Linked DNA regions of Homo sapiens: all the other regions are linked to region 1. The links come from fine-mapping of genetic effects on gene expression. A gene starts in region 1. Each other region holds a variant in brackets. All regions are shown on one strand. Distances are from middle to middle.

Evidence for each region. PIP is the estimated chance that this variant, and not a neighbour inherited with it, causes the effect.
Region 2: its variant is fine-mapped to the expression of TUBGCP5 in whole blood (TOPMed, PIP above 0.99).
Region 3: its variant is fine-mapped to the expression of TUBGCP5 in whole blood (TOPMed, PIP above 0.99).
Region 4: its variant is fine-mapped to the expression of TUBGCP5 in tibial nerve (GTEx, PIP above 0.99).

The regions. Positions count from the first base shown.
Region 1 is chr15:23,035,310-23,043,309 of GRCh38, forward strand. It overlaps TUBGCP5 (tubulin gamma complex component 5), which reads right to left and starts at 4,260. Exons shown (of 23, transcript NM_052903.6): 1 at 4,089-4,260; 2 at 1,790-1,843; 3 at 1,588-1,696. The coding sequence starts at 4,234.
Region 2 is chr15:22,985,402-22,993,401 of GRCh38, forward strand. It overlaps a transcript of TUBGCP5 not described here. Among named protein-coding and RNA genes, the nearest start is that of CYFIP1, 9.0 kb to the left of the region's middle. The variant G/C (reference allele first, on the strand shown) is at 4,016.
Region 3 is chr15:23,009,500-23,017,499 of GRCh38, forward strand. It overlaps TUBGCP5 (tubulin gamma complex component 5), which reads right to left. Exons shown (of 23, transcript NM_052903.6): 14 at 1,634-1,832; 15 at 446-634. Among named protein-coding and RNA genes, the nearest start is that of TUBGCP5, 26 kb to the right of the region's middle. RefSeq lists an enhancer at 3,564-4,474. The variant G/A (reference allele first, on the strand shown) is at 3,603.
Region 4 is chr15:22,921,652-22,929,651 of GRCh38, forward strand. CYFIP1 (cytoplasmic FMR1 interacting protein 1) reads right to left here. Exons shown (of 31, transcript NM_014608.6): 12 at 6,255-6,377; 13 at 4,331-4,456. Among named protein-coding and RNA genes, the nearest start is that of CYFIP1, 55 kb to the right of the region's middle. The variant C/T (reference allele first, on the strand shown) is at 3,987.

The DNA of each region.
Region 1 (8,000 bases):
ACAAAGTGACACTCAGTCTTAAAAAAAAAAAAGAAAAAAAGTGTGAAGTTATTGCTACACCACACAGCAATCCCCAACCGTTTTGGCACCAGGGACTGGTTTTGTGGAAGACAATTTTTCCATGGACTGTTGGGTGGGGGTTGGTTTCAAGGATGAAACTGTTCCACCTCAGATCATTAGGCATTAGATTGTCATAAGGAGCATGCAACCTAGATCCCTCAAATGTGCAGTTCACAATGGGGTTTGCTCTCCTATGAGAATCTAATGCCACCGCTGATCTGACAGGAGGTGGAGCTCAGGCAGTCATCCTCACTCACCCCACTGCACCTCCTGCCATGGAGCCCTGTTCCTAGCAGGCACATATTGGTACTCGTCCACCATGTGGGGGTTGGGGACCTCTGCCATAACAAACACATCCAAGATGCCACACAGCAAGAGAAAAGGATAACCAATCCCACCTTGTGTAAGTGGGTGGGGGCTGTGGACACAGAGGGGATAGTGAAGCAGACAAGACTGCACAGCCTTACTGATTCCCTCAACAAACATGCACTGTCCACTGTGCTCTAGGTGTCCGGGAACAAATCAGACACAGAGCCCTATGCCTGTAAAATGTGCCTTTTAAAGGGGGAGACAAGAAAGGAACTATAAAGAATTGAAATACATAGCATGTGTGGAGACAGTGCCTGAGTTTAATATTAAAACGTGAGCTTCCTCAGGCAGGAGAAAGGGAAAGAACTATGTAGGCACAAGATGTGTCACAGCAGAGCTAGGGAATGTGGTCCCACCGTGTTCAGGGAACCCACAGCTGTTTCCATACGCTTGCCATCCTTGGTTTGACCTCTAGGGGGCTACAGACTCAGCAGCTAAGGTCAGCCATGTGGGCTCTGCTTGCTTATGTGACCCACCCCCAATAAAAATGCTGGTCACCAAGGCTCAGCCGAGTGGCCCTGGGGGGAGTGGAGGGTAATACTTTGCACATGTTGTCATATACTGTTACTGAGAGAATTAACTGCATCCCCAGGTGACTCCACTAGGAAGGAACATTTGGACATGCGTGCCTAGCTTCTCCTAGACTTTGCTCTAAGCACCTTTTCCCTTTGGTGATTTTAATCTGTATCCTTTCACTGTAATAAACTATTAACAGTGAGGATAACAGCTTTTTTTTTTTAAGTTCTGTGAATCCTTTGAGCAAATCATTATGCCAAAAGGTGGTCTTGGGGAATCCCCCAAACAATATGAAAGTATACCAGGCATCTAGTAAGCATCTACAGACAGTCACTGCCAAGTGCTGAGAAACCATTTGAAAGTTTTGAGATACCCAAACAATGCTACTATTTGTATCAATCTCTGATCTCTCTTTCCTTAGTAGGACTGAGGTGAAAAAATGATTAAAAACAAGCTCTTTCTTTCATCACAAACTGAGGCATATCTGGTTTGATGGCAATATTTAAGTAAATTTCCAAGAGATCCCGTTAGCCAGTAGATAATACTAAAATAGAATGTTTAAACAGTAACTGAAACAAATTGACGATAATCAGATAGGAAACAGTAAAATACACAGTGGAGATCTCATAATTGAAGGCATACCTTTATTTCCTTTATACTGGGAAGTGGTGCATTTAGAAATTCCTCCGTTAATCTCTTCCAACTAGCAGCTTTGCTTAGATCAGAATGAATGACAAATTTTTCATAAATTCTAAAATATAAGAAAAGATTATAAAGCTATCTTAAAAAGATCTATAAGAAAATACATATATTTCTGGATGCGTATATATACACACTGACTTACCCTTCGATTGTTTTTTCTATTTTGTGGCTGTTGACATCCAAGAAACGATGAAATCTATTAAAGACAAAATGCAATTCTTATGCCAACTCTGTCACACAGGTAAGTGAACTCATCTCATGGCCCTCCATATCCCCCATATGCTCTGTACTCAGCTACACATTTCCAGAATGGAGTGTACCTTGTCCTCCGTTACCTCCACCATCAGGCAGGCAAATAATCACCGTGTCCGAGACTGTGCAAGCATCCTTTCTCCAGCACACAGGTTCTTCCTGACCCTCCCAACCTTGTCCTCTGGCTCCTCTGTCTTCCCATAAGCCCCTGTACCTAAGTCCAGCTGAACACATTCTACATCAGGTGGTCCCAACCTTTTTATGCCATAGTGAGGCCCGGTGAAGCCTAAGGACCCCTTCTCTGAATAACATTTTTAAAGCCAAAAAATAAATACAAAGGAATCCCATTATACTGAGATACAGTTGTCAAATATTTAAAGAAGTTTAAGATATGGCAAGAAATGTTATTTATGAAAGTATTAAATAACAAGATTTAGCAGTAGGTCCAATTAACTACCATTAAAGTAACAGTAAACAACATTTACAAATATCTACAACTCTGATGTGAAAACAGTATGCGATTTCTACTGGTGATAAAGTCATAGGTAGGCTAATACTGCTATGGTTTGCTGCCTTCATTCATAATAGAAGGAGATGCTACTTTTCAGTTAGAGAAAAGTGAGCTTGCTCAGTGCAAGCTCCGCCTCCTGGGTTCGCGCCATTCTCCTGCCTCAGCCTCCCAAGTAGCTGGGACTACAGGCGCCTGCCACCACGCCCGGCTAATTTTTTGTACTTTTAGTAGAGACCGGGTTTCACCGTGTTAGCCAGGATAGTCTCGATCTCCTGACCTCGTGATCCACCCACCTCGGCCTCCTAAAGTGCTGGGATTACAGGCGTGAGCCACCGCGCCCAGTCCACAATTTTCAAGAATGTAAACATGAACTATTCATTTTTCTGATGGTTTAAAGCATCATAAAATTACAGCACAGCCTATGCAACTAATGTATATGTACATAGCATAGCCTATGCAAAAAATGTTTTCCATTTTTTAGTATCAAAGCGAGCAATCTGTACTTAAATAAAATTACACTACTGAAAAACACATGATTCTAGGCCAGTAAATGGGTGAATGGAACACCACTTTACCTATTATAATTTAGTTCCTGAAATCTGTGAATGAAAATAGTAACCTCCAACGTCTCTCCCAGCTCTAAAATGATGACAATCTGCCTACTGTCATTTAGAAATATTAGTAGAAAAATAACTTGGATTTCAGCATTTAAGTTTCTGTATTGTATAACCTATTTCACACATTGTTTATTTTTATAAGTTACACTTAAGAATTCAGTTTATTACTTCAGAAACTTGGCATGGTTTAAAAGAATCTGAAAGCCCCGTATTCCTATTATAAGCCAACTAGACACTTTATGGCTATGATCATTAAGGTAACTAAGATTACGGATTTTGAAAAACTGTTCATTATTCAAGAAGATTTTTACTGAAATTAAACAGGTAGAATATTAACATTAACATTTTTTTAGTAATAATTTCATTATGGGTAATGACTCTAAAAGTATTAATTTACATCTCCCATAAAGAAAAATAGGAGATCTCACTTTACGTAAATATCTAAATTCTGTAAGTCTTTAAAAATTAGTTACAAGAGAAACTGCATTAGAAATTGTATTAGGTGACTCAGCGTGCTACGTGCCAGGAGCTGTGCAGAGATGCAGCATTCTAGCTGGAGTGGAAGTGGAGGAGACAGTAATGACAGGTTAAATCAGTGTCATGACACGCGTTTTGGAAAAAGGAGAGCAGGGTGAGAGATCTTACACTGGGCTGACCAGGGAGCAGGAGTCAGTGAGAATACAATCTCTTTAATTTAAAAAAAAAAAAAATTATAAACATGGAGTTGCTACGTTGCCCAAGCTGGCCTGGAGTCCCGCCTGGGCCTCCCAGAGCGCTGGGGTTGCAGGCGCGCGCGCCGGCCGGCAAGAAACCCAGTTCACGCTTTCCCCGTGACGATCAGGACGCGTCCCGGGTAACACGCCCTGTGGTGCGCAGGGCACCGCGCCGAGAGCGCTGGCCGGCGGGGAGCAGGCGGTGGCAGGGCCTGCGAAGGCTCCCTGAGGCCGCGCCCGCCTCCGCCCCATGCCCTGCCCCAGCGCGCCCCGACCCCGGGCTGTGCGGGACCCACGCGCGGGCTCCGGGCTGTGGCCGGGAACCCGCCCGCGCGCCGTGCCCCACACCTGAAGTTGGACCAGGCGAAGTTTAGGGCGAGCTGGAAGTTGGGGTCTGCCTCGTCCTGGAGGCCGGCGACACCCCGGACGAGCTCCCGCACGTCGCGCTCCTGCTGCGCGTCCAACCGACTCCACGGTGGCCCGTGCCGCGCCATGTTCCGCGCTCCTGCAGCGCGCGTCTAACGAATTGGTGCCTGTCGCGCGAGAGCTCGGGCTCCTGCCGCAGTCGCCTCCGGAGCTGGCGGCATTCTCGCGAGAGTTCGCGCTCCCGCGCCGGGCGACTTCCAAGCCGACCGCTATTCTCGCGACAGTTCGAGCTCCGGCTGTGGAGGGTACTGCCTGGCGCTGTCCCGTGGTGGGGACTGGAGTGCGCATTTTCTGGTTGCCCGACGGTACGTTTTCTACTGTACTCAGAGTTAGCTGGTGTCATCGTGAATCAGATACATAAGGGTCTCTGGCCGGCCTCGGTGACAGTCAGTGATTTTGAGAGCAGCCCGTTAGGTGCCCGGTCAGCAAATGCATTGGGACCCGCCTTTCCAGGAACCCTGAACTGCTTACCTGCTGAACCCTCCCGGCCCTGCAGCTTCTCCCTCCAGTGATGGTCTCTGCGGATTTCCGTGCCCCATCCACACAACACAGTCACGCTACACACATCCATGCTACACAACCAGCATCAGCGAAGCAGCTGTCCCGACCCGCTAGTAGTGCCTGCTGGCCCTTGCCTCGCCTGTTCCTCAGGGGCGGCTTGGGGGACTTCATGACCCCACCTGGCCAGAGGTGCTGAGGGGGGGAACTTCATAAATGTCACCTGGCCAGAGGTGGTGGGGGAGATTTCATAACCCCACCTAGCCAGAGGTGCTGGGGGGACTTCATAACCACACCTAGCCAGAGGTGCCGGGAGGACTTCATAACCACACCTGGACAGAGGTGCTGGGGGGACATCATAACCTCACCTGCTCAGAGGTGCTAGGGGGTATCATAATCCCACCTGGCCAGAGGTGCTGTGGGGCCATCATAACCCAACCTGGCCAGAGGTGCTGGGGGGACATCTTAACCTCACCTGGCCAGAGGTGCTAGGGGGATATCATAATCCCACCTGGCCAGAGATTCTGGGGGGACATCATAACCCCAGCTGGCCGGAGGTGCCGGGGGGCGGGGGGAACTTCATAACCCCACCTGGCCAGAGGTGCTGGGGGGACATCATAACCTCACCTGGCCAGAGGTGCTAGGGGGTATCATAATCCCACCTGGCCAGAGATGCTGGGGGGCCATCATAACCCCACCTGGCCAGAGGTGCTGTGGGGCCATCATAACCCCACCTGGCCGGAGGTGCTGGGGGGCGGGGGGAACTTCGTAACCCCACCTGGCCAGAGGTGCTGGGGGTGACTTCATAAATGTCACCTGGCCAGAGGTGCTGGGGGGGATTTCATAACCCCACCTGACCAGGGGTGCTGGGGGGACATCATAACCTCACCTGGCCAGAGGTGCTGGGGGGTATCATAATCTGACCTGGCCAGAGATGCTGGGGGGACATCATAACCCCACCTGGCCAGAGGTGTTGTGGGGCCATCATAACCCCAGCTGGCCGGAGGTGCTGGGGGGCGGGGGGAACTTCTTAACCCCACCTGGCCAGAGGTGCTGGGGGTGACTTCATAAATGTCACCTGGCCAGAGGTGCTGGGGGGGATTTCATAACCCCACCTGGCCAGAGGTGCTGGGGGGACATCATAACCTCACCTGGCCAGAGGTGCTGGGGGGTATCATAATCCCACCTGGCCAGAGATGCTGGGGGGACATCATAACCCCACTTGGCCAGAGGTGCTGTGGGGCCATCATAACCCCAGCTGGCCGGAGGTGCTGGGGAGCGGGGGGAACTTCATAACCCCACCCGGCCAGAGGTGCTGGGGGTGACTTCATAAATGTCACCTGGCCAGAGGTGCTGGGGGGATTTCATAACCCAACCTGGCCAGAGGTGCTGGGGGGACATCTTAACCTCACCTGGCCAGAGGTGCTAGGGGGATATCATAATCCCACCTGGCCAGAGATGCTGGGGGGACATCATAACCCCACCTGGCCGGAGGTGCTGGGGGGCGGGGGGAACTTCATAACCCCACCTGGCCAGAGGTGCTGGTGGTGACTTCATAAATGTCACCTGGCCAGAGGTGCTGGGGGGGATTTCATAACCACAGCTGGCCATAGGTGCTGGGGGAGATTTCATAACCCCACCTGGCCAGAGGTGCTGGGGGGACTTCATAACCACACCTGGCCAGAGGTGCCAGGAGGACTTCATAACCACACCTGGCCAGAGGTGCTGGGGGGACATCATAACCTCACCTGGCCAGAGGTGCTGTGGGGGGGTATTATAACCCCACCTGGCCAGAGGTGCTGGGGGGTATCATAATCCTACCTCGACAGAGGTGCTGTGGGGCCATCATAACCCCAGCTGGCAGGAGGTCCTGGTGGGCCATCATAACCCCACCTGGCCAGAGGTGCTGGGCGGCGGGGGGAACTTCTTAACCCCACCTGGCCAGAGGTGCTGGGGGTGACTTCAAAATGTCACCTGGCGAGAGGTGCTGGGGGGGATTTCATAACCCCACCTGGCCAGAGGTGCCGGGGGGACTTCATAACCCCACCTGGCCAGAGGTGCCGGGAGGACTTCATAACCACACCTGGCCAGAGGTGCCGGGGGGGCATCATAACCACACCTGGCCAGAGGTGCCGGTGGGACTTCATAACCCCACCTGGCCAGAGGTGCCGGGGGGACTTCATAACCACACCTGGCCAGAGGTACCGGGGGGACATCATAACCACACCTGGCCAGAGGTGCCGGGGGGACATCATAACCTCACCTGGCCAGAGGTGCTGGGGGTGGGTATTATATCCCCACCTGGCCAGAGGTGCTGGGGGGGACGTCATAACCACACTTGGCCAGAGGTGCCGGTGGGACTTCATAACCCCACCTGGCCAGAGGTGCTGGGGGACATCATAACCCCACCTGGCCAGAGGTGCCAGGGGGGACATCATAACCCCACCTGGCCAGAGGTGCTGGGGGACATCATAATCCCACCTGGCCAGAGGTGCTCTGGGGCCATCATAACCCCACTTGGCCGGAGGTGCTGGGGGGCGGGGGGAACTTCATAACCCCACCTGGCCAGAGGTGCTGGGGGTGACTTCATAACTGTCACCTGGCCAGAGGTGCTGGGGGGGATTTCATAACCCCACCTGGCCAGAGGTGCTGCGGGGGACTTCATAACCACACCTGGCCAGAGGTGCCGGGAGGACTTCATAACCCCACCTGGCCAGAGGTGCTGGGGGACATCATAACCTCACCTGGCCAGAGGTGCTGGGGGGTATCATAATCCCACCTGGCCAGAGATGCTGGGGGGACATCATAACCCCACCTGGCCAGAGGTGCTGTGGGGCCATCATAACCCCAGCTGGCCGGAGGTGCTGGGGGCAGGGGGAATTTCATAACCCTACCCGGACAGAGGTGCTAGGGGTGACTTCATAAATGTCACCTGGCCAGAGGTGCTGGAGGGGATTTCATAACCCCACCTGGCCAGAGGTGCTGGGGGGGACTTCATAACCCCACCTGGCCAGAGGTCCTGGGGGACTTCATAACCCCACCTGGCCAGAGGTGCTGGGGGGACATCATAACTTCACCTGGCCAGAGGTGCTGGGGGGTATCATAATCCCACCTGGCCAGAGATGCTGGGGGGACATCATAACCCCACCTGCCAGAGGTGCTGGGGGGCGGGGGGAACTTCATAACCCCACCTGGCCAGAGGTGCTGGGGGTGACTTCATAAATGTCACCTGGCCAGAGGTGCTGGGGGGATTTCATAACCCAACCTGGCCAGAGGTGCTGGGGGGACATCATAACCTCACCTGGCCAGAGGTGCTAGGGGGATATCATAATCCCA
Region 2 (8,000 bases), 50 kb before region 1:
GAGATGGGGTTTCTCCATGTTGATCAGGCTGGTCTCAAACTCCCGACCTCAGGTGATCCGCCTGCCTCGGCCTCCCAAAGTGCTAGGATTACAGGCATGAGCCACCACACCTGGCTGTATAATGAATATTCTTACCAGCTTATTTATAATCGCAAAAAACTAGAAACAACCCAAAGTGCACAAATAGGAGAATGGATAAACAAATACTGTTCATATAATGGAATATTACTCAGCAATAAAAAGGAAAGAACAAATCAAAAGGATTTGTTCTTGTGTTTTTCTATTTCACACTCATTAGGATGCCTACTATCAACAAACAGCTACTTGGGAGGCTGAGGCAGGAGAATCGCTTGAACCCAGGAGGCGGAGGTTGCAGTGAGCCAAGATCCTGCCACTGCACTCCAGCCTGGGCGACAGAGTGAGACTCCATCTCAAAAAAAAGAAATAATAGGCCGGGCACGGTGGCTCATGCCTGTAATTCCAGCACTTTGGAAGGCCGAGATGGGCGGATCACAAGGTCAGGAGATCGAGACCATCCTGGCTAACACGGTGAAACCTTGTCTCTATCAAAAATACAAAAAAATTAGCTGGGTGTGGTGGCGAGTGCCTGTAGTCCCAGCTACTCAGGAGGCTGAGACAGGAGAATGGTGTGAACCCGGGAGGCAGAGCTTGCAGTGAGCCGAGGTCACGCCACTGCACTCCAGCCTGGGCGACAGAGCAAGACTCTGTCTCAAAAAAAAAAAAAAAATAATAATAATAATAAAATAAAAATAAACAAAATAACAAGTATTGGCAAGGATATGATGAAATTGGAACTCTGTGTACTCTTAGTGGGCATGTAAAATGGTGCCACTATGGAAAACAATATGATGAAAAAAGTTTTTAAAAGGGGAAGAAAATGGATATACAAGTAGTATTATAAAATAGATGAACCTCAAAACTATTCTGTAATTTTCCACACACAAAAGACCATGTACATATTGTGGGATTTCATCTATATGAACTTCCATGACAGATAGCACCACTACTCACTGGTGACAGAAGTCAGAAATTGGCCGGGCGTGGTGGTTCACCCCTGTAATCCCAGCACTTTGGGAGGCCAAGGCGGGTGGATCACTCGAGGTCAGGAGTTCGAGACCAGCCTGACCAACATGGCGAAACCCCATCTCTACTAAAAATACAAAAAATTAGCCGGGTGTGGTGGTGGGTGCCTGTAATCCTAGCTACTCAGGGGGCTGAGGCAGAAGAATCACTTGAACCCAGGAGGTGGAGGCTGCAGTGAGCTGAGATTGCGCCACCGCACTCCAACCTGGGCAACAGAATGAGACTCTGTCTCAAAAAAAAAAAAAGAAAGAAAAGGAAGTCAGAAATCGTTAAATCGTTTGCTTGGGTGAGGTGGTCTGCAGGGAATAGGATGGACTGAAAAGAGGCGTGTAGGAAACTTCTGGGGACTTGGAAATATTCTGCATCTTTGTCAGGCTGATATTGACACAAGCATATTATGTCAGTCAGGGTTCAACCAGAAAAGCAGAATCAGTAGGAGATACATATTAGGAGATTTACTGCAAGGAATTGGCTTATGCACTATGGGGGCTGGCTCAGCTAGGATGAAATCTGGAGGGCAGGCCATCAGAAAGTTACTGTCCTGTGGCTGGGGGCGGTGGCTCACGCCTGTAATCCCAGCACTTTGGGAGGCTGAGGCAGGCGGACCACCTGAGGTCAGGAGTTCAAGACCAGCCTGACCAACATGGAGAAACCCCATCTCTACTAAAAATACAAGAAATTAACCGGGCGTGGTGGAACATGCCTGCAATTCCAGCTACTTGGGAGGCTGAGGCAGGAGAATCACTTGAATGGGGGAGGCGGAGGTTGTGGTGAGCCAAGATCACTCCATTGTGCACTCCAGCCTGGGCAACAAGAGCAAAACTCCATCTCAAAAAAAAAAAAAAAGAAAAGAAAGTTACTGTCCTGTTTTTAGGTTTCTGTCACGGTCACAACAAATTACTACAAATTTTTGGCTCTGGTAAACTGAAAAAGCATCCCCCAGCAAATACCTGTGTCAAATCCCTGGAACCTGTGGCTGTTACTACTATGTTGAAACCCCATCACCAAGATGATGGCATTAGGAGGTGGGGCCTTTGGGAGCTGACAGGTCACAAAAGTAGAGTCCTCATGAGTGGGATTTGTGCCCTTATAAAAGACACCCCAGAGGGGGCCAGGCGCGGTGGCTCACGCCTGTAATCCCAGCACTTTGGGAGGCTGAGGTGGGTGGATCATGAGGTCAGGAGATGGAGACCATCCTGGCTAACACGGTGAAACCCCGTCTCTACTAAAAATACAAAAAATTAGCCGGGCGTGGTGGCGGGTGCCTGTAGTCCCAGCTACTCGGGAAGCTGAGGTGGGAGAATGGCATGAACCCGGGAGGCAGAGTTTGCAGTGAGCCGAGATTGCGCCACCACACTCCAGCCTGGGTGACAGAGCGAGACTCCATCTCAAAAAAAAAAAAAAAAAAAAAAAAAAAAGACACCCCAGAGAACAGCCTTGTCCTTTCTGCCATGTGAAGACACAGCCAGACAACAGCCACTGAGAACCAGACAGTGGGACCTCACCAGACACCCACTCTGTGGTGCCTTGATGTTGGGCACTCAGCTTCCAGAACTATGAGTAATACATTTCTCCTGTTTATAGCCACCCAGTCTATGGTGCTTTGTTATAGGAGTCCTGACGGACTAAGACAGTACCTTATATGAAGAAAGAGTCTTAGCGGATCTAAGTTCTTGAGATGGGATCATCTTAGATTATCTGAAGGGGCCCTAAATCCAATAAGCAGTGTGCTTACATGAGACACTGAGAGCAGACCCAGAAAAAGAGGCAGTGTGAACACAGAGGCAGAGATGGGAGTGAAGCAGCCACACAGCCACAAGTCATAGAATGCTGGCAGCCCCCGAAACTGAGCAGGTAAAGAATGGTGGAGGCAAGGCCCTATTGCTGCCTTGAATTTTGGCCTTCCAGCCCCCAGAACTTGAAGATAATTAATATCTGGTTTTTTTGGCCGGTTGCGGTGGCTGAAGCCTGTAATCCCAGCACTTTGGGAGGCCAAGGCGGGCGTATCACGAGGTCAGGAGATCGAGACCATCCTGGCTAACACAGTGAAACCCCGTCTCTACTAGAAAATACAAAAAAAATTAGCCGGGCGTGGTGGTGGGTGCCTGTAGTCCCAGCTACTCGGGAGGCTGAGGCAGGAGAATGGCGTGAACCTAGGAGGCAGAGCTTGCAGTGAGCCGAGATCGCGTGACTGCACTCCAGCCTGGACGACAGAGCGAGACTCCGTCTCAAAAAAAAAAAAAATCTGTTTTTTTGTTGTTTGTTGTTTGTTTGTTTTTTGAGACGGAGTCTTGTTCTGTTGCCAGGCTGGAGTGCAGTGGCGTGATCTCAGCTCACTGCAACCTCCGATTCCCTGGTTCAAGCGATTCAGGCATGCACCACCAGGCCCAGCTAGTTTTTGTGTTTTTAGTACAGACAGGATTTCTCCATATTGGTGTAGAGGCCACTCACATTCCCGGATCCTGCTCCTTCCCTTGACTTTTTCTGTCCTCAAAGCCCTCAGCTGGCTCTGCCCTCAGGCTGCCCTGGCCTCACACCTTTCTCTGACACTGTGCTTCTGTCCCCTCTTCCACCTTTAGGAGCCGTGTGACGACATCCCCAGATAATGCAGGGTAACGTCTCTATCTCAAGTCAGTGGACTAGCAACCCTAATTCCATCTGCAATTTTAATTCTCCTCTTGCCATGTAAACTAACATAGTCACACGGCCCAGGGATTAGGAAGCAGACAGCTTTGGGGCTACCATTCCGCCTTGTCTCAGGAAGCTGGAGCTCTGCCTCAGTGTCCTCTAACCCATTGAATCCGGCCCAGCTGGACTGCCTGGGATCATCTCCTTTACTTAAAGTCAACTGATATGAAATTTAATCACATCCAGTAAATACCTTCTAGCAACACGAGGTGTGTGTTTGATA[G/C]AACAGCTGGGACAGCCTCACTAGGTTGACACAATAAAAAGACCACCACAACCCACCCCCTGTTAACTTGGCACCCATACATATCCCCTTAAATCATACTTGTCTTGGTCTGTCTTTTTAAATTTATGATTTATTTATTTATCTAGAGACAGGGTCTCACTTTGTTGTCCAGGTTGGCCTTGAACTCCTGGCCTCCAGGGATCCTCCCACCTGGCCTCCCAAAGTGCTGGGATTACAGGTGCAAGTCATGTGCCTGGCCAACCAGGAGGAACTTTAATTCCTTCTTAACTGATCCCTCCATTCCACAATAGCATGATCTCAGCTGCTATATTTGTACAACCTGATCTCTTATTTCTTGCCACACCTTGTTCAAGCTGGAGTGGGCACCTGACCCAAGTTGACTCGCTGTGGGAACCTTGGTTGGGAGCTTAGAGTTGGAACTTTCTCACTCACATCACAGCCTCCTAACTTCAGGACTTTTATTTCTTCTGCAGTGAAAACATGTGGACTCCAACCAAGAACCCAACCACACGTCTCCCTGGTGCCCGCCTGGATCTCTCACCTCCTGCCCTGGGGCTTCCCTGTCACCAGGAGGCATCAGAGTCCTCTGAGATCACACATGAACCATGCAGCTGTGCACAGAGTTAACATTCCCTGCACCTTTGACTAATGAGAGGCACTCACAGGCAGATTCCTCTCTTTCCTTCCTGATGCAGTCCACATGGCTTCTAGGGACATCCCGAGAGGTGGGGCAGGCACACTTAGCAATGCCATCTTACTGAGATGGCCCCATATCCATCAGCACTCCCCCTCCTTCTCCCACTCCTCCCCCTCCTCTTCCCCTCCTCTTCCATCTCTCTCCTCCTCCTGCTAGGGCACTCTCTGACTCCCACTACGGGCACTGCACCCCATCTCAGAGTAGAGGCACCTACGGCTTTGTCTCAGGTTGTATTTCTGGGGAACCCAGGCCAAGGCTGGAGCCAAGAACTGGTCACGTGCATTTGGGATCTGTGAGCATCCACCTTCCAACCACTACAGGAAAAGCACAGCAAGGAAAGGTGAGAAAGCAGAAGTAACAGGTAGAAAAACAAATACCAGCAGAACAGGGAGACAGCTCTCCCCGAGCAGGAAACACAGCATGCATTTTTGGATTAAAATTCCTCCATTCCCTCACCAGACACCAACTCTGTGGTGCCATGATCTTGGGCGCTCAGCTTCCAGAACTGTAATAAATTTCTCCTGTTTAGAGCCACCCAGTCTATGCTGCTTTGTTATAGCAGCCTTAACAGACTAAGACAGTTACCTTATGTGAAGAAAAAGAGTCTTAGCAGATCTAAGTTCTTGAGATGGGATCATCTTAGATTATCTGAAGGGGCCCTAAATCCAATAAGCAGTGTGCTTACAAGAGACACGCAGAGAACAGACCCAGAAAGAGGCAGTGTGAACACAGAGGCAGGGATGGGAGTGAAGCAGCCACACAGCCACAGTCATAGAATGCTGGCAGCCCCCAGAAACTGGGGAGGCAAAGAATGGCGCGGCCATGGCCCTATTGCTCCCTTGAATTTTGGCCTTCTGTCCTCCAGAACTTCAAGAGAATGAATATCTGTTGTTTTAAGCCACCAGGTTTATGGTAATGTGTTACAGCAGCCACAGGCAACAGTATAAGGACTTCCTTATAATAAATTACTTTTTTTTTTTTTGAGACGGAGTCTCGCGCGCTCACCAGGCTGGAGTGCAGTGGCGCGATGTCAGCTCACTGCAACCTCTGCCTCCCAGGCTCAAGTGATTCTACTGCCTCAGCCTCTTGAGTAGCTGGGATTACAGGCGCACACCACCACACCCGGCTAATTTTCTATATTAGTAGAGACGGGGTTTCACCATGTTGGCCAGGCTGGTCTCGAACTCATGACCTCAGGTGATCCGCCTGCCTCGGCCTCCCAAAGTGCTGGGATTACAGGTGTGAGCCACCATGCCCAGCCAAATTACTCTTTCTTAACTTAATGATGCCATGAATTGATGTGGTGGCTTTGCAGCATGTGGAGCTGGCTAAGCTGACCCAGGTTTACTAGAGTTCTTCCTGTGTTTCTGCAAGACCATGAGGGAGGCGCTGGCGGAGGCTTGGGGAGAGGCAGGGAGCTGCCACTGTGTTGTGGCTCACACGTGTTGTGGGTCTGACAGCTTACACTGTTAACACCACCATGGCCAGGACTGCCACTACTGCCTTCTTCTTGTCAACCTAAAATAATCAAAAGGAACAGAATCTAGTTTAGAGAGTTTATTCAAGCAAAAAGTTTGAGGATGGGCCACCTGGGAAGCACCCATCTCAAAGAACAGAAGTCAGTGTTCCAAAGTGTAGATGTTTGGGAATGCTTATTTAGACAAAGGTTAGGGAAGTGTAACAAAATTTCATCATCTTTCTGTGGAAGACTTCATGCATAGTTATGATGATCTGATTAGTCAAGTTGGTCTTTTTCTTCCAGGCAAGGCATATTTAACATTCCACACTGAGGTTGTACTAGTGATAGGGTCTTGAGCACCGTCTGGTCCACATTAGGTACCGGACAGCAAAGGAGGCAGTTCATCTACAACAAAACCAGTGATTGGAAGTGGGGAGGTCTGGTCTCTGGTCTCTCTTAGTCATTTACAGAACAAGAACAATGAGGAAGAGAGTGAATCTGAGAAGAATTGCAGTCGTACGACCTGACAGTCTCCAGGGCTCAACTTCCTCCCTGGCGTAATAAATCCAGACAGTCCTGAAGTTTTACTTTCATTGACTCTCTGGATCCTGTGGCTCCCGAAGGAGGCATCTGGCTCATCTTCATGATGAGAGGCCCTAGCTTCTGCAGCACCTCCACACCACCAAGGCCAGAAGCAGCAAGAACTGACGCAGGTTTAGGTCCCTCCCAAACCTCCTGTGGACAGTAGGCTCCAGCGTCGGATGCAGACAACAGGCAGCCCTATGGAAACTGACGAATCAGTTTACACAATTAACTGTGTAAGAGCAAAGCCCTGCAGCAAGTCCACGATTATCCACAGGTATGGGTGTATGGGTAATATATATATACACACATATATATGTATGTATATGTGTGTCACACACACACATGTATATTAATGGCTCTGCTCTTGGACTGATACAGATTTTGGTACAGAGAGAGGATGCTGCTGTAGCAAAACCTAACAGGTGGGCATGGCTCTGGGACCAGGGTTTGAGGAGAGTGTTGATGACACTAAAGTGCTTTGAACACACTGTTCTTAGACTTTGGACTTTGAGGACATTGCTGAAGAGGGCTTAAAAGAAAGTGAGAAGAATGTTGTTATTGGAAATTGAAGGAAGACTTTCACTAAGTAGCAGCAGAAAGTTTAGCCCTGCTGTTACCTGACGTTACATGGATAGGACAGAATATACATAATAAACGGGTGACCTAGCTAATGAGATTTTCCAAACAAAGTATTCAAGATGCTGCCTGGTTTCTTCCTGCTGGGTATAGTAAAATGTGAGAGGAGAGCATTAACTGAGAGAAAGATTTAAAAAAAAAAGGAGACAGAATTAATGGTTTTGAAATGTTTTAGCCTCCCCATACGGCAAATGATGCTAAAATAAGAAAATGACTATCGAGCAAGGATAAACTATATGGCACTGCCAAGAAAATGTGCTCTAGAGACGATGCTCAGGATGTGATTGGAAACTCTTTATTTTTGAGATTGAGTCTCGCTCTGTCGCCCAGGCTGGAGTGTAGCGGTGTGATCTCAGCTCACTGCAACCTCCACCTCCCGGCTTCAAGCGATTCCCCTGCCTCAGCCTCCTAAGTAGCTGGGATCACAGGCATGCGCCACCATGCCCGGCTAACTTTTGTATTTTTAGTAGAGACAGGGTTTCACCATGTTGGTCAGGCTGGTCTCGAACTCCTGACCTCGTGATTCGCCTGCCTCTGCCTCCCAAAGTGCTGAGATTACAGGTGTGAGCCACCGCGCCCAGCTGGAA
Region 3 (8,000 bases), 26 kb before region 1:
TCTCGTGATCCTCCCACCTCAGCCTCCCAAAGTGCTGGGATTACAGGTGTGAGCCACCGTGCTCGGCCTAATTGCCATAATTTTTATGAACTTTACAAAGTTCATATGTGGGTATGTATATGCCATATTTATGGATATGCATAGTTTAAAAAACTAGTCATCTATCACTAAGTAATTTAGTGTTTTTCATTCTGATAACAAACTTTGTAATTTTTCTACAAGCTTTTTCTGTATTTCTTTTGGGAAAGATTCTCAGAAATAAAGAATTAAGTTTCAAAACATAGTTAAGAAAATATTGATGGTCAATTGATTTCTCTTAGAAAATTGTTTACTGTATATCCATTTCCTACTCTAATAAAAATTGAAATAGGTTTTAAAATAATCTCAACTGTTCTTCAAGTACAATCAACTATTTACTACTTCCAAAATTAAATTACTCTTTTACCTGTAATCTTTTTTTAGAGTTTGCATGAGATTTCCACAGCAATCTAGATACTGCTTGTCAATATGAGGATAGAGGCAGGATCTCAGCGTTAATTCAAAAGTCTGGCATGTCACAGATTCCGATGATCTATCCACACATACATCACCACCAGCAAACTTCTCGTGAAAGTCACTCTGCTCCAAATACATCCTTCAAGATAAAAATGTGAGTCTTCTTTTTATGAGCTGCTGTCAACAGAACTCTCTTAAATCAAAACCCTGAAGTTCCATTTTTACCTTTAGTCTTGAAGTTACCAACTATTACAGAAAGAGAAAAATCTTTCTCCCAAAAATATCCTTTGAGTGAACCAGTCTCTTGAAGTTGCCACTGACTTAGGGTCAGGTACTAGAGCTGGTCTTTCTAGTGATTAGGGCTGGACACAGCAAATGCTGGCCATTAGACAACCGGGAACTGTGTGGGTATTAATGACTTACTCTAATGGACTAAGTGCCTAAAAGCAGCTTAAGCCCAGGACATATTATATGCCAGTGGGGACCCTGACTCAATGGGTGTCCAGGGCCCACTCATGGCCCAGAGTTTCAGCATCTTCTGGGTAAATGATGACATTTCCAGGGGCCCGAGGGCACAGACAAAAGTTGTACCACATGGTGGCAGGGCCAAGTCTGCAGACTTCCACAAACGACATGGAATCCAAACTATACACCTGAAGTAGGTGAGCACAACATCTTGTATTCTGCTTGTTATAAAGGATAGGCATGGCATGGTGGCTCACACCTGTAATCCCAGCACTTTGGGAGGCCGAGGTGGGCAGATCACCTGAGGTCAGGAGTTCGAGGCAAGCCTGGCCAACAGGAGGAAACCCCGTCTCTACAAAAAATACAAAAATTAGCGGGGCATGGTGGCACATGCCTCTAGTCCCAGGTAGCTGGGAGGCTGAGGTAGGAAAATTGCTTAACCTGGGAGGCAGAGGTTGCAGCAGTCAGCCAAGATCACACCACTACACTCCAGCCTGGGTGACAGACTGAGGCTCCATCTCAAACAAACAAAAAAAAAAAAGGAAAAAGAAAAAAGAAAGGATAGCCTACAAGAGTTTTTGTTTTTAGCCCTACCTGCCAGAAATAAACAGTTAGCAAACATTGCACAAATGATGCCATTTCAATTACTGATAACCTTGCAGGTGTGTCTCACCTTGCAAAGTTAATGGCAAGCAGTGGATCATGAACATCATCCAGTTCAAGATGGCTTTCAGCAATGGACTGCATCTTCATCAGGTTCTCCTTGGTTGCCTGTTGCTCAGTAAGAACCTGTGGAGTGGAATCTTCTCCATGTCGAAGACGGGACTGTACAGATTCCAGAAAGAGAGTGTATAAACTTTTTCTTTCTGCATCTGAAACATAAAGAAATATGTAAGGTGAACTAAGTTCTGTTTAATCATATTAAGTAACATTCTGTTTAATCATATTAACATTAACAATATATTAAGTAACAAAATCTATATATTTATATATAAATATTAAATATATGTAAATATTAAATATATATATTTATATATAGTAACAAAATAATATATATTTTTTGAGATGGAGTTTTGCTCTTGTTGCCCAGGCTGGAGCGCAATGGCGCCATCTTGGCTCACTGCAACCTCCGCCTCCCGGGTTCAAACAATTCTCCTGCCTCAGCCTCCCAAGTAGCTGGGATTACAGGCATGTGCCACCACGCCCGGCTAATTTTATATATTTGTTTTTTAGTACAGACGGGGTTTCACCATGTTGGTCAGGCTGGTCTCAAACTCCTGAGCTTAAGTGATCCACCCGCCTCAGCCTCCCAAAGTGCTGGGATTACAGGCGTGAGCCACTGTGCCTGGCCCAAGAAATATTAAATAATATCATGTCCGGGTGCAGTGGCTCATGCCTGTAATCCCAGCACTTTGGGAGGCTGAGGCGGGTGGATCACTTAAGCTCAGGAGTTTGAGACCAGCCTGGGCAACATGGTGAAACCTCAGCTCTACAAAAAAATTAGCTGAGTGCAGTGGAATGTGCCTGTGGTCCCAAGCTACTTGGGAGGCTGAGGCACGAGAACTGCGTGAGCACTGGCAGGTGAAGGTTGCAATGCGCTGAGATCACGCCACTGCACTCCAGTCCAGTTTGGGCAATAGGAGTGAAACCTGACTCAAAAAAAAAAAAAAAAAAAGAGTAAGATCCTAATCAGCACACTTGAAATTTATTACAATACTGCATAACACTATGGTAACCCTGATAGGAGTCGCAGTCTCATTGGAAAAAACACTTCTGACAGTGGCCCTGGGAAGCTCACTACATAAGAAGGAAATATTCCACAAAGTGAAAATAAGTATTGCATCTACTTATTTCAAGTAGATACAATAATATAATTAACATAACATTGAGATGATTGAGATGTATAAATAAGGTCACATCTTTATCTTCCAAGCCTTTTTAGTCAGTTGATAAAACTTTTTTTTTTGACATGGAGTCTCACTCTGTCACCAGGCTGGAGTGCAGTGGCATGATCTCGGCTCACTGCAATCTCTGACTCCCTGGTTGAAGCGATTATCTTGCCTCAGCCTCCTGAGTAGTGGGGAATTACAGGCCCATGCCATCATGCCCAGCTAATTTTTGTATTTTTAGTAGAGATGGGGTTTTACCACGTTGACCAGGATGGTATCGATCTCCTGACCTCGTGATCTGCCTGCCTCAGCCTCCCAAAGTGCTGGGATTACAGCATAAAACTTTGAATATATTAAATTGCATCATTTTCTTGAAATTTATGATCGAGTCTGAACTGCTCATAAGAAATTCTTATCAGCCATGGTTCACGGCCCTCAAGGGCTAAACGCTGCATTGCATTAAGAAATGCCAGAAGGGCTGGTTGTGGTGGCTCACGCTTGTAATCCCAGCACTTTAAGAGGCGGGTGGATCAGCTGAGGTCAGGAGTTCAAGACCAGCTTGGCCAACATGGTGAAACCCCATCTCTACTAAAAACACAAAAAATTAGCCGGGCGTAGTGGCTCACATCTATAGTCCCAGCTACTTGGGAAGCTGAGGCATGAGAAATCACTTGAACCTGTGAGGCAGAAGTTGCAGTGAGCCGAGATCATGCCACTGCACTCCAGTCGCCAGCAAGGTGGCTGCCTGGAGAC[G/A]TCTGGTGTTCCTCTCCCAACAGCAAGAGAGGACCAAAGCAACGAATCAACAGTTAAGATCCGACTGGAGGCTGGGGGTGGTGACTCACACCTGTAATCCCAACACTTCAGGAGGCCGAGGCGGGCGGATCATGAGGTCAGGGGATCGAGACCATACTGGCTAGTATGGTAAAACCCCGTCTCTACTAAAAATACAAAAAAATTAGCCGGGCACGGTGGTGTGCGCCTGTAGTCCCAGCTGCTGGGGAGGCTGAGGCAGGAGAGAACCCAGGAGGCGAAGTTCGCAGTGAGCCGAGATCGCGCCGCTGCACTCCAGCCTGGGCGACAGGGAAAGACTCCGTCTCAAAAAAAAAAGATCCGACTGGAGTTGAAGGGCGAGTGCTGGAGTGCAGAGGGGGAATGTGACACAGTGTTGGTGACTGGAGGCCCAGGAGGGCAGTGTGGAGGCTTCCAGCCTCTGCAGCTTCGCAGAACAGGCTGGTCTGGAGTCAAGAAGGACTTCCCATTGTAGGGTAAGGGTAAGCAGAAGAAACCCACCAGCCCCCACAAACACCTACAGTCATTACTACAGGAGGATTCCACAGTTCCCACGAGCTCTGAGCCCAGTTTGGAGAGCTGCTGGGAATTCACGCAGCTGCCTTGCCCCGGGTTAGGGGCACAAGGTGTGCCTTCCCCACCCACCCCTTTGAGCCAAGCTGTTGCAGCATGGCACCATCTTCAGACCAGAGCCACCTCTGGAGCACGCCCTCCTCTGGGCCAGTAGCTGCTGCACCTCTCCTGCACCCCAGCCACTGGGGCTCCATCCTCATTCCACCAAGGCCACAGGGATGGCTGAACACCACAACCCCAGCTATGTGGAGCCTGGGCCCAGGATCGACTGGTGATTCTGGTCCTGCACAGCAGAAAAACCAGCCCCTGCCACTGCACTTTCAGACAGAGGAACAGTCTGGCAGCCCCAACAGACCAAACCCATCTTTGAGCTGGCCAAATTGCTGTGCCATCTCTAGAGGGTGGGAACAGACCCCTGAGCTTCCTACCAGCTGACATGCCTCCAGGCTGGTGAAGCAGTTACAGACCTTTGCCCAGGAACTGAGAAACAGCCCCACAGCATCAACCCCTTGCAGACAGGCCCGTGGCCTACCCAGTGGCCCTGGGTCAGCATTCAGGGTCTGAGAAACAGTTTCAGAGGCTGCCCTGGCAGGCATGTACCTAGGCTTCTTGAGCGGCCTTGCACGGCATCTTTGGTTGGAGAAGAAGCCCCATAGGCAGCGCCTGGGAGTCACAGGCCAACAGAGCGGCCACAGGCCTGCATACTGGGCCTGCCAAACAGCCCTGTGGTCTGCCCTTGGTGGGCATGTTCTGAGCCAGCTGGCACCCATATCCCAAACCTGAGAAAGAGCCTTGAAGACCACCCCCAGTAATCACACCCTCATGCCAGCCAAGCAGCCTTCCACCCACATGCTGGGCCTCAGAAGCAGCCTCATGGGCTGCCACTGGCAGATACATACCTAGGACGGCCAACAAGCCATGTGACCATGTCCCAGGACTGAGAAAGAGCCCCTTGAACTGTGCAGGCAGACATGCACCCAGGCTAGCAAAGCAGCCTTGTACCCACATCCTGGGCCTAAGAAACAGCCTTATAGGTTACCCCCAGCAAACATACTCCCAGGCGAGCAAAGAAGCCTGTGCTCATGTCCAAGGCTTGAGAAATGACCCTGAGGGCTGTTCTCATGGAGCCCCTGGCCAGAAAACCAGTTTTGTGCCTACATCCTAGGCCTGAGAAACAGCCCCTTGGGCCATTGCTGGCAGGCAAATAAACCTATAGGCTGGCCAAGCAACCACATGCTCATGTTCCTGGCCAGAGTAACAGCCTGTGGTCCCAAACCCTGAGCCAGACCCCACCTTGGCCAAACCACTGTGTACATGCATGTACCCCTAATCTGAGAAACAGTCCAGCAAGCCCATCCCAGCAAAGCTGTGCTACTGTTTGTTTTTTGTTTTGGGACAGAGTCTTGCTTTGTTGCCCAGGTTGGAGTACAGTGGTATAATCTTGGCTCACTGCAAACCTCCGCCTTCCGGGTTCCAGTGATTCTTGTGCCTCAGCCTCCCAAGCAGCTGGGATTATAGGCATGCGCCACCACATCTAGCTAATTTTTATATTTTGGGTAGAGACAGGGTTTCACCATGTTGGCCAGGCTGGTCTCAAACTCCTGGCCTCAAGTAATCCACCTGCCTTGGCCTCCGAAAGTGCTGGGATTGGCTGGGCGTGATGGCTCACGCCTGCAATCCCAATACTTTGGGAGGCCGAGGCGGGTGGATTGCTTGAGGCTAGGAGTTTGAGATCAGCCTCACCAACATGGTAAAACCCGATCGCTACTAAAAATACAAAAATTAGCCAGGCGTGGTGGCACATGCCTGTAATCCCATCTACTTGAGAGACTGAGGCAAGAGAATGACTTGAACCCAGGAGGCAGAGTTTGCAGTGAGCCGAGATCATGCCACTGCACTCCAGCCTAGGTAATAGAGCAAGACTGTCTCAAAAAAGAAAGTGCTGGGATTATAGGCGTGAGCCACCACGCCCAGCCAACTGTGCCACTGTTGCCACAAACCCCCTCACTGTAGGCCACTGAGGCACTTGCAAACATCACTAAAGTGGATTACAACTGAAGAAAGTACATGGAGACTATACTACTGCATTTGTCCAGAACCAAGGTGAATGCATCCCACTGAACCCACACTCCAAGACCCATTCATATGAATAACTCTTTACAAAACGTACTCCATAAAATTGGAAAAGGTGACTTTCCCACCAGATGTGTAGAAATCAATGTAGAAATACATCAAACATGAAAAAGCAAAGAAACATGACACCTCCCAAGAAAACCAATAATTCTCTAGCAAGAGACTACAATGATATAGGAAATGCCGGAAAAATAATTCAGAATTAAAATCTTAAGGAAACTCGGTGAGATACAAGAGAACTCGGTGAGATACAAGACAGTACAAATAAACACTCAACAAAATCAGGAAAAGAATGATTTGAATGAGAAATTCAACAGAAACAGATGTTTAACAAACAAATTTTACAGTGAAAGAATTCAATGAATGAGGCCAGGCACGGTGGCTCACGCCTGTAATCCCAGCACTCTGGGAGGCCAAGGCGGGCAGATCACTTGAGGTCAGGAGTTCGAGATCAGCCTGGCCAACATGGTGAAACCTCGTCTCTACTAAAAACACAAAAAATCAGCCGGGTGTGGTGGCGGGTGCCTATAATCCCAGCTGCTCAGGAGGCTGAAGCAGGAGAATCACTTGAGCCAGGGAGGCAGAGCTTGCAGTGAGCCCAGATTGCACCACTGCACTCCAGCCTGGGTGATGGGAGTAAAACTCTGTCTCAGGAAAAAAAAAAAAAAAAGGCAAATGATCTGAACAGACATTTCTCCAAAGAAGTAATACAAATGGCCAAGAAATAGATGAAAAAATGCTCAGCATCACTAATTATTAGGGAAAATGCAAATCAAAACCACAATGAGGTATCATTTCACCCCAGTCAGGATGGTTATTTATCACGAAGACAAAAAATAAATGCTGGTGAGGATGTGGAGAAAAGGAAACTCTTACACAATGTTGGTGGGAACATAAACTAGTACAGACACCATGGAGAACAGTTTGGCGGTTCCTCAAAAAACTACAAATAGAACTACTATATGATATAGCAATCCCACTGGTGGGCATTTATCCAAAGGAAAGGAAATCAGGATATCAAAGAGACATCCGCACCCCCATGTTTACTGCAGCACTATTCACACAGCCAAGACATGGAATCAACCTAGGTGCCCAACAACAGATGAATGGGTAAAAAAATTGTGAGATATATATATATATATATGTATATATCTTGAAGATAAAAGAGTGAATCCTGTTGTTTGCAGCAACACTGATGGAAATGGTGGACATTAAGTGAAATAAGCCAGGAACAGAAAGTTAAACACTGCATGTTCTCACTCATCTGGTAGCTAAAAAATGTTGATCTCGTATTAGTAAAAAGTAGAACAGGATACCAGATGCTGGATTTTGTAGGGGGAAGGGAGAAAGAGGAAGATATTTGTTAAAGGATACAAATAGCTAGCTGGAAGGAATAAGTTCTAGTGCTCTGTATCACTATGGGATGACTATAGTTAATAATGTATTATAGAGTTGCACATAGCAAAGAAGAGGATACTGAATGTCCCCAACATAAAGAAGTAGTAAATGTTTGAGATGATGGAAGTGCTAATTATCCTGATCTGATCACTATATATGTATCAAAACATCACTATGTACCCCATGAATATGTACAATTATTATGTCAATTTATAAAAATAATAAAAGAAAAGAAATGGCAGGGGATTACTTTTTAAA
Region 4 (8,000 bases), 110 kb before region 1:
ACTAAAAATACAAAAATTGGCCAGAAGTAGCTTGAACCCGGGAGGTGAAGGTTGCAGTAAGCTGAGATTGTGCCACTGCACTCTAGCCTGGGCAACACGCGAGACTCTGTCTCAAAAAAAAAAAAAAAAAAAAAGAAGCACGAGTTACCAGCATTAAGAATGAAAAAGGGGACATTAGCAGTTTATAGACAGATTAAGAGATTATGAAAAAATACTGTCATAGGATAGACAGAGGTCAATGGGATAGGATTAAGAGTCCAGAAGTTAACTTACAATTGATTTTCAACAGGGTACCAAAACAATTTGATGGGGAAAGATCATCTTTTCAACAAATAGTACTGACAACTGTATCTGCACATGCGAGAGAATCAAGGTGGACCCTTGTGCAGGAAAGGGTTAACTCAGCAGGCTGGGGAGAATGAAACTCCGCACATCCCCAAGAAAGGCCCATCTTCAGGACTGGCTGAAGTCATCCCAGGAACCAGCTCTGAACCTTGGGAGTGTCCTGCCTAGAGATTATGTTTTTGTGTGCCTGGGGCCCCGGGCCTACTGCTGTACCAGTCTGATCAGTCTCTGCTAACAAGGTGACTAATAGTGACCTCCTGTGTGTGTTTTGAGGACCTAGAGTCTGAGTAGCCAAGGTCAGCCACGTGACTGGCCCCCAGTAAAAACCCAGGACCCCAAGGCTCTGGGGAGCTGCCCTGGTGAGCCACAATTTGTGTGTGCTGTCACACATCATCGCTGGGAGAAATAAGCACGTCCCGTGCAATTCCACTAGCAGGCACAGCTGGAAGTTTACACCTGTCTTCTCTGGACTCCACTCCTGTGCCTTTTCCCTTTGCTGATCTGACTCTGTCTTTTGGCTGCAAGGAGTCATAACCTTCAGTGCAACAACTACCAAGCCCTGTGAGTCCTCCCAGCCAGTCAGGGGGATGGAGGGTGGTCTGGAGGGCCCCTCACACAACCTTGTCAAACGCTGTATAAAAATCCACTCAAAATGGATCATATATTTAAATTAGGTTTAAGTTAGGAGCTAAAACTATAAAACTTTTAGAAGAGGCTGGGCGTGGCGGCTCATGCCTGTAATCCTACCACTTTGGGAGGCAAAGGCGGGTAGATCACCTGAGGTGAGGGGTTCAGGACCAGCCTGGCCAACATGGTGAAACCCTGTCTCTACTAAAAATGCAAAAATTAGCTGGGTGTGGTGGCGCACACCTGTAATCCCAGCTACTTGGGAGGCTGAAGCAGGAGAATTGCTTGAACCTGGGAGGCAGAAGTTGCAGTGAGCTGAGATCATGCCACTGCACTCCAGCCTGGGTGACAGAGCAAGACTCTGTCTCAAAAAAGAAAAAAAAAAAAGACTTTTAGAAGGAAACACAGGAGTAAATCATCATGACCTGGGTTACACAATGATTTCTTATATATGACACCAAAAGCATAAGCAACGAAAGAAAAACAGATAAATCAAACATAATCAAAATTCAAACACTTTGTGTCTCAAAAGACTCCATTAAGAAACTAAAAGGACAATCATAGAATGGGAGAAGATACTGAAAATCCTATGGCTGTAAGGAACTGATATTTAGAATGTATAAGGAACTGTTACAACTCAATAATAAAAAAGATAACCTAATTAAAAATGGGCAAAGGATCTGAAGAGACATTTCTCCAAATAATGCACACAAATGGCCAACAAGCACATAAGAAGACGTTTAACATCCTTAGTTGTTAGAAAACCGCAAATCAAAAGCGCAATGAAATGAGATACCACCTCACACCCACTAGGATAGCTAGAATCAAAAAGACATACAATAACAAGTTTGGTGTGGATGTGGGGAAACTGGAGCCCTCACTTACTGCTGGTAAGAAGGAGAAATGGTGCTGCCACTATCTGGTAGTTCCTCAAAAGCTAAATGTGCTGTTATGATCCAGTAATTGCATTTCTAGCTATACAATCAAAAGAAATGAAAACCAGCATCTACACAAAAACCCGCACATGAAAGCTCATAGAGGCTGGGCATGGTGGCTCACCTCTAATCCCAGTGCTTTGGGAAGTCAAAGCAGGAGGATCACTTGAGCTCAGGAGTTCAAGACCAGACTAGGCAACACAGTGAGACCCCATCTCTACAAAAAATTTAAAAATTAGTCAGGCATGGTGGTTTGTGCCTGTGGTCCTAGCTACTTGGGAGGCTGGGGAGGGAGGATTGTCTGAGCCCAGAAGATTGAGGCTGCAATAAGCCATAATCCTGCCACTGCACTCCAGTTGGGTGACAGAGTGAGACCTTGTCTCCAAAAAAAAAAAAAAAAAAAAAAACAAGAAAAAGAAGTTCTCAGCAACTTCATAGTAGTGAAAAGGTAGAAATAACCCAAATGTCTATCATCTGATGGATGGATAAATACAATGTAACATATCCATGTAATGCAATATTATTCAGCAATAAACAGAACAAAACAGTGATACCTGTGTGAATCTTGAAAATTATGCTAAGTGGCCTGGCACGGTAGCTCACGCCTGTAATCCTGGCACTTTGGAAGCCCAAGGCAGGCGGATTACCTGAGGTCAGGAGTTTGAGACCAGCCCGGCCAACATGGTGAAACCTTGTCTCTACTATAAATACAAAAATTAGCCGGGCGTGGTGGTGGGTGCCTGTAATCCCAGCTACTCTGGAGACTGAGGCACAAGAATTGCTTGAACCCGGGAGGGAGAAGTTGCAGTAAGCTGAGATCACGCCACTGCCCTCTAGCCTGGGTGACAGAGCAAGGCTCCATCTTAAGAAAAATAAAAGGAAAATTATGCTAAGTGAAAATTATGCTTTGTGAAAGCCAGTCACAAAGGGCCACATATGGTATGATCTACTCATATGAAATGCCCAGAGCAGGCAAATCTACAGGGTCAGAAAGCAGAGTGGTGGCTGCATACGGTTGAGGGAGGGAAGAATGAAGGGTGGCTGATAATGGGCTGGCATTTATATTTGTTCTAAATTTGATTGTGACTGTACAACTCTGTGAATGTGCTGAAAGCATTGACTTTTACACTTCAAATGGGTGAACTGTATGGTTATGTGAAAAAAAAGCTTCTACCAAAATAAGATGAGAATTTACTATGAAAAACCTTATGTCAAAAAATCAGAAAATTTTGGCTGGGCGCAGTGGCTCACACCTGCAATCCCAGCACTTTCGGAGGCTGAGGCGGGTGGATTGCTTGAGCTCAGGAGTTTGAGACGAACCCGGGCAACTTGGTGACACCCCATCTCTACCAAAAATATAAAAATTAGCCAGGTGTGGTGGCATGCACCTATAGTTTCAGCTAATGGGGAGGCTGAGGTGGGAGGATTGCTTGAGTCCAGGAGGCTGAGGCCAAAACAGTGGTTTTTAACATTTTTATTACTTTTCACTGTTGTAGTGTTATTTTTTCTTTCTGAACATTTTTGACCCAAGGTTGGTTCATGGAGGTGGAACCCAAGAACACTGAGGGCCAACTGTATGAGACTTCTGTCAATTCTCCTGTCATGATCCATAGGATTGTTCATATCCTGATTAAAATCCTCACTGTGGGATGGGAAAAGCTGATTCTAAAATGAATATGAAACTACAGTGGGGAAGAATAGCCAAGGAAGTCTAGGAGACAGAAAGACGTGCTTTCTCATACACGGTAGATGACTACAAAGCTACAGAGTGGTGCTGGGATACCGACAGCAACTGACACTGGGTTAGAGCAGAGCAGAAACACAGCCACACATGCATTGTCACGTGACCAGCTACAAAGGTGGCAGCGTGAGGGTTGGACGGAATTGTTTCAAAAATGAATTTCAGGTGAATTTCGCATCTCAGTGTGAAAGCAGAGTGAAGTATCCAGAAAGCAATGCAGAATACCTTCACGACCTGAGAGTATGCAAAGATTTCTCAAACAGCACAGGAAAAGCACAGCTATGAAAGAAAAGATACCAGTTGATGCTGGAATGAAGAGCTGCCCATGGAAAGGCTCA[C/T]GAGGGGAGTGCAGCGCCTGCCTCACAGGAGAGCAAGACAGCTCTTCTCTCTCAGCAGGGGCCACATCTCTTTCACCTCCCTTCCCCGCACCCGACACTGCTCTCCATCCAGACGCAGGTCCAGGAGTCCAGATTCGCACCCAGGGAGCTTCAGTGCAGACCCAGGACCGACAACCACTGTTTCTCTAATGCGTTCTACTCTGACTACTCTGCCAGATGGAAAGGGGTGCCCACACAGAAGCAATGAGTAAACAGGCAGTTTTGTTCATGTTTTTGCTTTTGACAGAGAAGATGGTGTGAAGCTAGAGCGACATGAGGAAGAGCGAGCGGCCGAGCATCCTCACCTCCACTAGGGCAAACTTCTCCTCGCTGGTGTAGTTGTAGCGCGTGGCACGCTCGTACTCTTCAGCGCTGTCGGGGCAGTCCTTGTTGGAGTACTTGTCGGTGGGGTGCACAAGCTTCCAGGAATACTGTGGTGGCCGAAAGAGCAGAGGTGTTCCATATTGCATGCAAAACGCCTGGCTTCTGGTCTGACTCACACGATGGTGGCCAAAGCCAGGCCAGCCTTCAAACCTTTGCTGCATTCTGAAAGTCACACATGAGGGCGCACACACCGTCCATCTCCACAGATGGGCAAAAGACCCTGGCCCTGTAACCTCTCGTTTAAAAAATCTACCCGGCAAAATGGCCTGGATAGTGAGTGCTGAGTATCTAAGACTCTGGCATTTCATCATCATTTTAAAAAGGATTCTGGGCCAGGCACAGTGGCTCATGCCTATGACCCCAGCACTTGGGAGGTTGAGGCAGGAGGATCACTTGAGCCCAAGAGTTCAAGATCAGCCTGAGCAATATAGTGAGGCCTCATCTCTACAAAAAATAAAATAATAAGTAAGTAAATAAAGATTTTGCCTTTCAAATGACCATGTACTCTTCCAATTTGATAATTTTTATGTGATCAAAATAAATCACAAAAGGGAAAATCTTTCATTGCTTACAGGTATCCAAATCTTTATATGGCACCAGAAATAATTTACTAATGTTCAACAAAAGACATTGATGGCTGGAGCTCCAAAGAGAAAATGTTATCTTAAAAATGCAGGGCGTGAAGCGACATTAATGGGTACAAATGTACAGTCTGATATTAGAAATAAGACAGTGTTAGATAGATCAGTTAGGGTGACTATTAATTAAAATAATTTATGGTACATTTCAGAATAGATAGGGAAGAACTCGAATTTTTCTGGCATAAGGACAAATATTTATGGCGATGGACATCCCAAGCACACCAATTAGATCTTTGCAAACTGTATGACTGTATTAAATTATCACATGTATCCTGAAACTATGTACCCCTATTATGCATCAATACAAGTAAATATTTAAAGCAAAATAAAATTTAAATGAAAAAATGAGACTTGGCCAGGTACAGTGGCTCACGCCTGTAATCCCAGCACTTTGGAAGGCCCAGGCAGGCAGATGGCTTGAGGCCAGGAGTTTGAGACCAGCCTGGCCCACACGGCGAGACTGTCTGTACAAAAAAAACCAAAAAACAAAAAACTAGGCCAGGTGCGGTGGCTCAAGCCTGTAATCCTAGCACTTTGGGAGACTGAGGCGGGTAGTTCACCTGAGGTCAGGAGTTCAAGACCAGTGTGGCCAACATGGTGAAATACCATCTCTACTAAAAACACAAAAAAATTAGCCAGAAGTGGTGGTGGGCGCCTGTAATCCCAGCTAACTCAGGAGGCTGAGGCAGGAGAATCGCTTGAACCCAGGAGGCAGAGGTTGCAGTGAGCCGAGATCACGCCATTGCACTCCAGCCTGGGCAACAAGAGCGAAACTCCGTCTCAAAAAAAAAAAAAAAAAAAAAAAATTAGCCGGGAGCCGTGGTGCACACCTGTGGTCCCAGCAACTTGGGAGGCTGAGGCAGAAGGATCGCTTGGGGTGGGGAGTCAAGGCTGTAGGGACTTATGTTTGCACCACCGCACTCCAGCCTAAGCGACAGGGTGAGACTATCTCAAAAAAAGAACGACTTAAAGAAAATCACAATGGTACAAATTTAATTCTATCAAGATTTTTTTTAAAAAGGAGGCCCTTCATTTATTACACACATAAATGAGATGTACTTAAAATCACCTTGGAAACATATCTACTGATAGATATTCTCGTCTTTCTAGGGCCAAAGATAAAAAGCCCAAAGACCAAAAGTTAATGTGAATAAAGTGCCCGAGGCAGCTTTGGAGCGGGGCTGGGGTCGGGGACGGGGCCTACCACTTCCATCACGTGCGCGCTCCACTGCGACAACAGCTGCAGGCCCTGCAGCGCCAGGTCGAAGAGCTTGCGGTACTCCGCGTCCGTCTTCTGGGCCTCCTGGCGGCCCGAGCCCGTGACCACCTGCACAAGGCGGGCACGGCCCCGTGAGAAACCAGCGCCCCCACCCAGCTCCCCCCATCCCGGGATCCACCATGAGAATCCACCCCAAAGTCACACGTGTGAAAATAAGAAATGCAGGAGGCCAAGGCGGGCGGATCACAAGGTCGGGAGATCCAGACCATCCTAAAACGGTGAAACCCCGTCTCTACTGAAAAATACAAAAAAATTAGCTGGGCATGGTGGCGGGCACCTGTAGTCCCAGCTACTTCAGAGGCTGAGGCAGGAGAATGGCGTGAGCCCGGGAGGCGGAGCTTGCAGTGAGCCGACACTGCGCCACTGCACTCCAGCCTGGGCGACAGAGCGAGACTCCGTCTCAAAAAATAATAAATAAATAAATAAATAAATAAATAAATAAATAAATAAATAAAAAGAAAATAAGAAATGCTGTGGGTGCTGGACCCTCCTCCCGGGAAAATGGCGGCCAAGGGCGTGCTGCAGAGCACAGAGCAAGGGACAGGCCGCTGCCACAGCCACCGCCTGGGGGACCGCGGGCTGGGCGCGGGGCTGTTACACGCGTGGGCTTGGCGCACTTCCACTAGGCCGGGGAAGGGCAACACACAAGTCACGTGGGTTTGCTTCTATCAAATAACCACCCCCTAAATTTAAACATGTGACCTATGGGGAGGAAGGGGCACCGTGGAGAAGGCAGGCTTCTTTGAATATACCTTTTTATAGATGTGATATTAGAACCACACAAATATTTTATATATTTAGGACACAGAATTAAATGAGATCGGAAATGCAATGCCTAGAAGTCAAAAGCAAAATGAAACAATGGCGGGAACCTGCATGGAGCTCACAGCATGACCACTGAGAGGACCCTGAGCAGCTCTAAACACCACGGTGTGACTTAAAATCCTCTGAGTGAGGGGCCCGGTGCGATGGCTCATGCTGTAATCCCAGCACTTTGGGAGGCCGGGGCAGGTGGATTGCCTGAGGTCAGGAGTTCGAGATCAGCCTGGCCAACATAGTGAAACCCCATCTCTACCAAAAATATAAAAAAGTAGCTGGGCGTGGTGCTGCATGCCTGTAATCTCAGCTACTCGGGAAGCTGAGGCAGGAGAATTGCTAGAACCCAGGAGGCGAAGATTGCAGTGAGCCAAGATCCCGCCATCACACGCCATCCAGCCTGGGCAACAAGAGCGAAACTCCATCTCAAAAAAAAAAAAAAAAGTACCCTGAGTAAGAAGCTCAAGGGCAAAATCACCTGCAAAACAAATCATAAAACAATTTCTAGTCACTGTAATTAGTAGTGCTGGCATTGCTCTTTTAAGACTAGATTATGACCGGGTGCAATGGCTCATGCCTGTAATCCCAAAACTCTGGGAGGCTGAGGTGGGCGAATCACAAGGTCAAGAGATGGAGATCATCCTGGCCAACATGGTGAAACCCCGTCTCTACTAAAAATACAAAAATTAGCTAAGCATGGTGGCGTGCGCCTGTAGTCCCAGCTACTTGGGAGGCTGAGGCAGGAGAATTGCTTGAATCCGGGAGGTGGAAGTTGCAATGAGCCAAGATCACACCATTGCACTCCAGCCTGGGCAACAGAGAGAGACTCTGTCTCAAAAAAAAAAAAAAAAAAAA